Homo sapiens: one gene and its partner. The protein of the gene in region 1 purifies or fractionates together with the protein of each later gene. This does not show direct contact. Each region holds a gene or a part of one and is shown in the gene's direction. Other genes may lie near its edges. The genes, in order: PHETA2 and NMT2.

The links.
Region 2: the proteins of PHETA2 (region 1) and NMT2 purify together in Homo sapiens (affinity purification with mass spectrometry; one large-scale study listed by BioGRID and IntAct). This does not show direct contact.

The regions. Positions count from the first base shown.
Region 1 is NC_000022.11:42,076,930-42,079,938, forward strand, and holds the end of PHETA2 (sesquipedalian-2), read left to right. Parts: intron 1-350; 5' UTR 351-364; coding exon 365-1,144; 3' UTR 1,145-2,509; downstream 2,510-3,009. Other genes in the region: SMDT1 (essential MCU regulator, mitochondrial precursor), read left to right, coding at 2,840-3,009. UniProt on the Homo sapiens protein: Plays a role in endocytic trafficking. Required for receptor recycling from endosomes, both to the trans-Golgi network and the plasma membrane.
Region 2 is NC_000010.11:15,113,019-15,116,836, reverse strand, and holds part of NMT2 (glycylpeptide N-tetradecanoyltransferase 2), read left to right. Parts: intron 1-3,818.

The DNA.
Region 1 (3,009 bases):
TTTCGATGGGTCTGGGGTCCATTTCAGCTCAGCTGGGGCCTGTTTCTTTGGATTTTAGAAAGCCGTGCCCAGGTCCTGCCATGCCTCCTGTCTGATGCAATCTCGTTATTCTTTTCTCGAAGTCCGCCAGTGTCCAGTTTTTTTTGCATGATCCTCACGACATCCCTTTGAGAGAAAAGGAAGGAAAGACGAGCCCACTTCTCAGGAGACTTTAGGGACCTTAGGGACACAGCAAGCGAGTAGGAGTCCCAGGGCTGGGGTCCAGGTTGCCTCTGGAGCCGGTGCTGTTCCCCAGGAGGGCACGGAACCACCTCCCTCTCTGATCTGCTGCCATCTCTCTTGCCTCACAGTTCCCGTGGGAGCCATGAAGCTGAACGAGAGGAGTGTAGCCCACTATGCACTCAGCGACTCCCCAGCGGACCACATGGGCTTCCTGCGCACCTGGGGGGGCCCAGGGACCCCACCGACCCCCAGTGGCACTGGCCGAAGATGCTGGTTTGTCCTCAAGGGCAACCTGCTATTCTCCTTTGAGAGTCGCGAGGGCCGGGCCCCACTGAGCCTGGTGGTGCTGGAAGGCTGCACAGTGGAACTGGCCGAGGCTCCCGTGCCCGAGGAGTTTGCCTTTGCCATCTGCTTTGATGCCCCTGGAGTGCGCCCACACCTGCTGGCCGCAGAAGGGCCGGCGGCCCAGGAGGCCTGGGTGAAGGTGCTGTCCCGGGCAAGCTTTGGCTACATGCGCCTGGTGGTACGCGAGTTGGAGAGCCAGTTGCAGGACGCACGCCAGAGCCTGGCTTTGCAACGCCGCTCATCCTGGAAGTCTGTTGCCAGCCGCTGTAAGCCCCAGGCTCCTAACCACCGAGCTGCGGGCCTGGAGAATGGCCACTGCCTCTCCAAGGACAGCAGCCCTGTGGGCTTGGTTGAAGAAGCGGGCAGCAGGTCTGCAGGGTGGGGGTTGGCTGAGTGGGAGCTGCAGGGCCCTGCCAGCCTCCTCCTAGGCAAGGGGCAGAGCCCTGTGTCCCCTGAGACCTCCTGCTTCTCTACCCTGCATGACTGGTATGGCCAGGAGATCGTGGAGCTGCGGCAGTGTTGGCAGAAGAGGGCCCAGGGGAGCCACTCAAAATGTGAGGAACAGGATAGGCCCTAAGTCTGGGCCCTTTGAGTCAGGAAACCAGGGCCAGTTCTTTTTCAGGAGTTAAATGTTTACCCATTTCCAAGGTTGCGTTTTGGGAGGGGACATGGGTTCTCTCCTTCCTGCTATTTAGGCATTCTCCAGGTTCGAGATCCACCCGTGTGTCTGGAAGGGACTGCGGGACCATTCCTTCCATCCTCTTTATTTCCTGAGGTCCAGAGAAGGAAGGAGACTTAGCAGCCACAGAGCAAGACCCCAATCTCCTGACTGCACTGGCCTGACTGCCCCCTCCCAGGGGATGTTAATGAAATGAAGGAAGTGGGGAATGTCACCCGAGACTGTCACAGGCTTGCCATACCTTTGGCCTACACACCGGGCTCTAGAGCCATAATTTCCAACCTGGGGAGTCTCCTGTGCACTTAAATCCGAGGTAGGCTGCAGTATCGGCTTGAAGCTCTGACACTGTCAGAGAAAGTGGATTTATTGTGTCATAGGAGTTTCTGGGACCCAGCTCTTCCTGAGAGGGGTGGGAAGATTGGGGATGGGATCCTCACTCAGCAGTCTGGGTAGGGCCCTTTGAGGCAGAGGGTCTTCGGCCAGTGAAGAGAGATTTATTCTGCTCAGAGTGCTGGGGTCCCATCCTTTCTCCCTGGCTGCCCTGTTAACAGATGGTGCTGGACCTTGCCCCGGAAGGGGCTTGTAGCTTTTTTACGTCAACGAAATGCCCTCCTGTACTCTGTCTTCAGCAGCCAACTCCTGGAGCTGCCAAGTGAGGGGTTAAAGAAGAGGTGGGGAGGCAGTGTGGCTCCCTGGGAAAAGTCTGTTGCTTTGGTTCTCAGTCCTGGGTATTCTAGGAGCTTGGACACGGGATTGCGTTTCCTGTGCTAAAATTCTCTCTCCTGGCTGGGCTCCGGTAAACTGAAGCTGCTCGAGAAATCACCTGGGAACTCTCATAGCCGTTTGTCACCCAGGGTGTACTTGCCAGGACCTCTCCTTGCTACTCTTCCCAAAGTCGGGAGGCAAAGCGGCTGGGTCACCAGAGCCTGACCATACTGACGCTCCAGGGGGAAGACGCAGAGGCCGGGAAGAGACACCCCCTCCCAAACACATAAAACTTGCCCCTTCCTAGCCTCGGCTCCCCTCACTGGGGCCTTGGGCAGGACCGACCCGCATCCAACTAGGCCTAAGGGGTAGGCTCTGAGCCTCTTACCCCTAAGAGGCGGAGATGCGCCCAAGGCGGGCGCCCGGCCTGTTCCCCAGCCCTGCCTGGAAGCCCCGCAGCCACTGCATTTTGTTTAAACACAGATAGCACGGGCCTTTCTCTTATTGCTACAGTGTTTTGTACACGGTTAAAACACTAGTAAAGCTTTTTCGTTATTACTCCTTCCGCTCCCTGGGTTTATTTCCACAACCGGCCGCTGAGGCCTGTTCTGACGGCCGGGCGGACCCAAGACCGCGGCCACGCCCAGCAGGACGCGGACTGAGGGAGCCGGGGCTGCGCCGCCACTCTCGTGACGCCACCATGCCGGCCAGTGACAAACACCTCCCTCCCGCCGCCCCAGGAGCCGCCGGCACTGCGCGAGTGGGAGGGCTGGGCTTCTCGTGTACTCCTCAAACTCTCGCGAGGCTTCGGGCGGCTTTCTTCCCGAGGGCGGCACGAGGGCTGGGCGGTGGGGTGCGGGTGCCCGGGTGAGGGGCGGAGCTGGGGGCATGGCGTCCGGAGCGGCTCGCTGGCTAGTATTGGCACCCGTCAGGTCCGGGGCTCTCCGGAGCGGGCCTAGCTTGAGGAAAGATGGCGATGTCTCCGCCGCATGGAGCGGCTCAGGCCGGAGCCTGGTACCGTCGAGGTCAGTCATCGTTACCCGCAGCGGCGCCATTTT
Region 2 (3,818 bases), on another chromosome or scaffold:
GAGTTCATCCATTTCTTCTAAATTGTTGAATGTATGAGTGTAATTAATGTTCATTTTATTCCCTTGTTATCCTTTTAGTGGCTGTGGGATCTGTACTGATATCTCTTCTTTCATACCAGATATTGGTGATTCGTGTCTTCTCTTTCTTTGTTTTTGTCCATATTGGTAGACTTGTATCATTTTATTGATTTGTTTCCCAGAGAACCAGACTTTTGTTGGATATTCCCTGTTGTCTTCCTGTTTTCAGTGTCATTGATTTCTACCCTCGTGTTTATTGTTTCCTTCTGTCTGCTTGCTTTGGGTTTATTTTGCTCTTCTTTTCTAGTTCCTTGAGGGAAGAACTTACTGACTTGAGACCTTTCCCTGTTACTAGTAAGCATTTAGTTCTATCAGTTTCCCTCTCTGCACTGCTTTAGCTATTTCTGACGTATTTTGGTATGTTGTATCTTCGTTGTCATTCACGTCTATGTATTTTTTGGTTTCGTTTGAGGCTTCCTCTTTAGCCCACCCCTACTTAGAATTGTGCTGTTCAATTTTGCTGTGTTTAGAGATTTTCTGTTGTCTCCCTATTACAGATTTCTAGTTTGATTCAATTATGGTTAAAGAACACACACTGTATGGTTTTGATTATTTTAAGGCTCTTGAGGTTTGTTTTATTACTCGGGATATGGACTGTCTTGATGGATATTCCATGGGTGCATGAAACGTGTATACCACTACGGTTGTGTGGAGTGTTCTTTGTATGGCAATTGCATCATGTTGATTAATTGAGTTATTCAGCTCTTCTGTTTCCATGCTGATTTTCTGTCTAGCAGTTCTATCACTTGATGAGAGGGGCATGGAAGTCCCCAGCTGTAATTGTGGATTTGTCTATTTCTCCTTCCAACACTGTCAGTTTTTCTTGATTTCTTCTGGGCCTCTTGTTTGATACTCACATGTATATTAGGGTCTTTGTGTCTCCCTAGTGGATTGATCTTTTTATCATAATGTAATACCTCTCTTTCTAATAATTTTCCTTGCTCTGGAGTATACTTTATTGTATATTACTGTGACCAGACCTGCTTTTAAAAATTGTTTGGACTTTTTCCATCCTTTTACTTTCAAACTATTGATGTTATTGAATTTGAAGTGAGTTTCTTGGAAACAGCCTATAGCTGGGTCATGTTTCTTTACCCACACTACTGATGTTTCTTTTGATTGGTGTATTTAGACCACTTACATAAAAGGTGATTATTGGTATGGTAGAGCTTAAGTCTACCATTTGATTATTTGGTTTCTTTATGTTTCTTCTGGTTCTTGTTCCTCTGTTTCTTTTTTCTTGCCTTGCTGTGGATTACTTGAATATATTTTAGGATACTGTTTTATTTATAGTACCTTTGGGTGTATTTGTATAGTTTTTATGATGGTTGATGTGAGTATTACAATATATATATGTGACTTATAGTCGATTGGTAACAACATTTATTACTTTGAGTCACCTTACTTTTATTTAGGTCACTTTACCTTTTTCATTTTTAAATATTGTTGTCTTAAATATCAGACAGTATTATGATTTTTGTTTTAATCATCAAGTATGATTTGTAACACTGATTAATAATGATGCTTGAGGAGAAGCATAATTTATTATATGTAGCCCAAATTTCTACTCTATTATTCTTCCCTCCTTCCTGATGCTTCAAGATTCCTTCTTTTATTATTTCCTTTCTATTTGAAGAAATTCCTTTAGCCAGTCTCAGGGTATGTCTGCTAGTGACACATTCTTTTGGTTTCCATTTGTGTGAGACTACCTCTGTTTTTAGATTTAGTTTCCCAATTTTTTTTTTTAATTTTTTTTGGAGACAGTGTCTTGCTCTGTCACCCAGGCTGGAGTACAATGGTGCAATCTCTGCTCACTGCAACCTCCGCCTCTTGGGTTCAAGCAATTCTTGTGCTCAGCCTCCTGTGTAGCTGGAACTACAGGCGCATGCCACCACACCCTGCTAATGTTTTGTATTTTAGTAGAGACGGGGTTTCACCACGTTGGCCAGGCTGGTCTCGAACTTCTGAGCTCAGAAAATCCACCCACTTTGGCCTCCCCAAGTGCTGAGATTACAGGCATGAGCCACCATGCCCAGCCCTAGTTTGCTAATATTTTACTTAGGATCTTCTATACTCACTACTGAGGTTGGCCATTAATTTCCCCTTCTTACCCTGTCCTTGTCCTGTCTTGATACCAAAGTTAGAATGAGCTGAAGAGCTTGTCCTCTCTTTTCTCTGGAACAGTGTATGTAATAATAGGGATTACTTGTTCCTTGAAAGTTGTTAGAAGTTGCTTATAAGCCATCTAGACATGGTGCCATGGTGGGTTTTGTTGTGAGCGGGGTTTTTTTGTTTTGTTTTGTTTTGTTTTGTTTTTTATCAGTCTTTACAATTGATTGGGTGTGAGGGACAATGGAAAGATCATCCCACTCTTCCCCAACAGTTGGTGATTCTCTGGTCATTTTAACAGCAAGAGAGGAAACAGTAATTTTACCAGCAATATGAATGTGAAGAAGTAGTTTTCTGAAAGCAGATGATGAAAATGGGGTGGGGAACCTAATCAGGTTCTGCAGGTGCCTGCAGTAATTCAGCGTATGAGATGGATATGAGAAATTCTTAGAAGAATCTAAAATCCTTATTAAACCTGAAGGTTGAATTCATCTCCAATACTGAGCTGCTAATATAGAGCAGTAGGGAATCACTGTAGATTAACCCCTTTAGTTTCTTGCTGGCTGAAGAAAGGTCTAATGACTCGGAAGCCTTTGAAAACCAAAGCATACATCCTTCTGGAATTTCCTTTTCTGCTGAAAGAAATACTAGCAGTGGCATGTGTGTGGTCCAGCCTCTTCAGCCGCACGATTCAAACACATCATATTCTAAAAGTCAGCAAGGCCACCACAGCTAATTACAACAACCCGAACAATACTGGCTAATTTCTTGTATTGGAAGCTTTGCCAGTGATGATGAAATGAATGTCATCCATTGTATCCCTTATTTTTGATAGCTGCAAAATTCTCCAGTTGTTCACATGTGTATATTTTGGTGCAGTAGTAAGACCTTTCACAAGCTTGCGAACTCTTCCAAACAGCTTCCAGACTCTACCCAACCTTACTTAGGCCTGATATAATTCTTTCTGTGTGCTAAGACAGTGTGAGATAGTACACAGTATCTTTTAGTTGGAGAAGGCAGCCCTCTAATCCTTAAAGCTTTTATTTCTGCAAAAACAATGAATCTGCTTTTATCACTGTTCCCTTAGTCTAAAGAATTGACTCATTTGTCAGCCTGAGGGAAGCTTTCCTTTTAGGACATTCTGCTTCTATCTTTCTTTCTTTTTTTTTTTTTTTTTTTTTTTTTTGAGTCTCATCCTGTCGCCCAGGCTGGAGTGCAGTGACACAATCTTGGCTCACTGCAACCTCCGCCTCTGGGGTTCAAGCGATTCTCCAGCCTCAGCCTCCCAAGTAGCTGGGATTACAGGTGTGCGCCACCACACCTGGCTAAGTTTTCATATCTTTAGTAGAGATGGGGTTTCACCATGTTGGTCAGGCTGGTCTCGAACTCCTGACCTCATGATCCACACGCCTCATCCTCCCAAAGTGCTGGGATTACAGGCATGACATTCTGCTTCCTAAGAACTTTGTGCAAATCACCAATGGGCACTTAGGCTGAAGTCCCAACTCCAGGCCCTTCTTGGCCTCTACACAGCACAATATAAGGGGCCCCAAATTGGACTGCCGAGAAAGAAGTGTGACTTACTGCTTTTCGTTCTCTGGGGCAAGGGAGAGAACAGAGTTAGTGGAAAT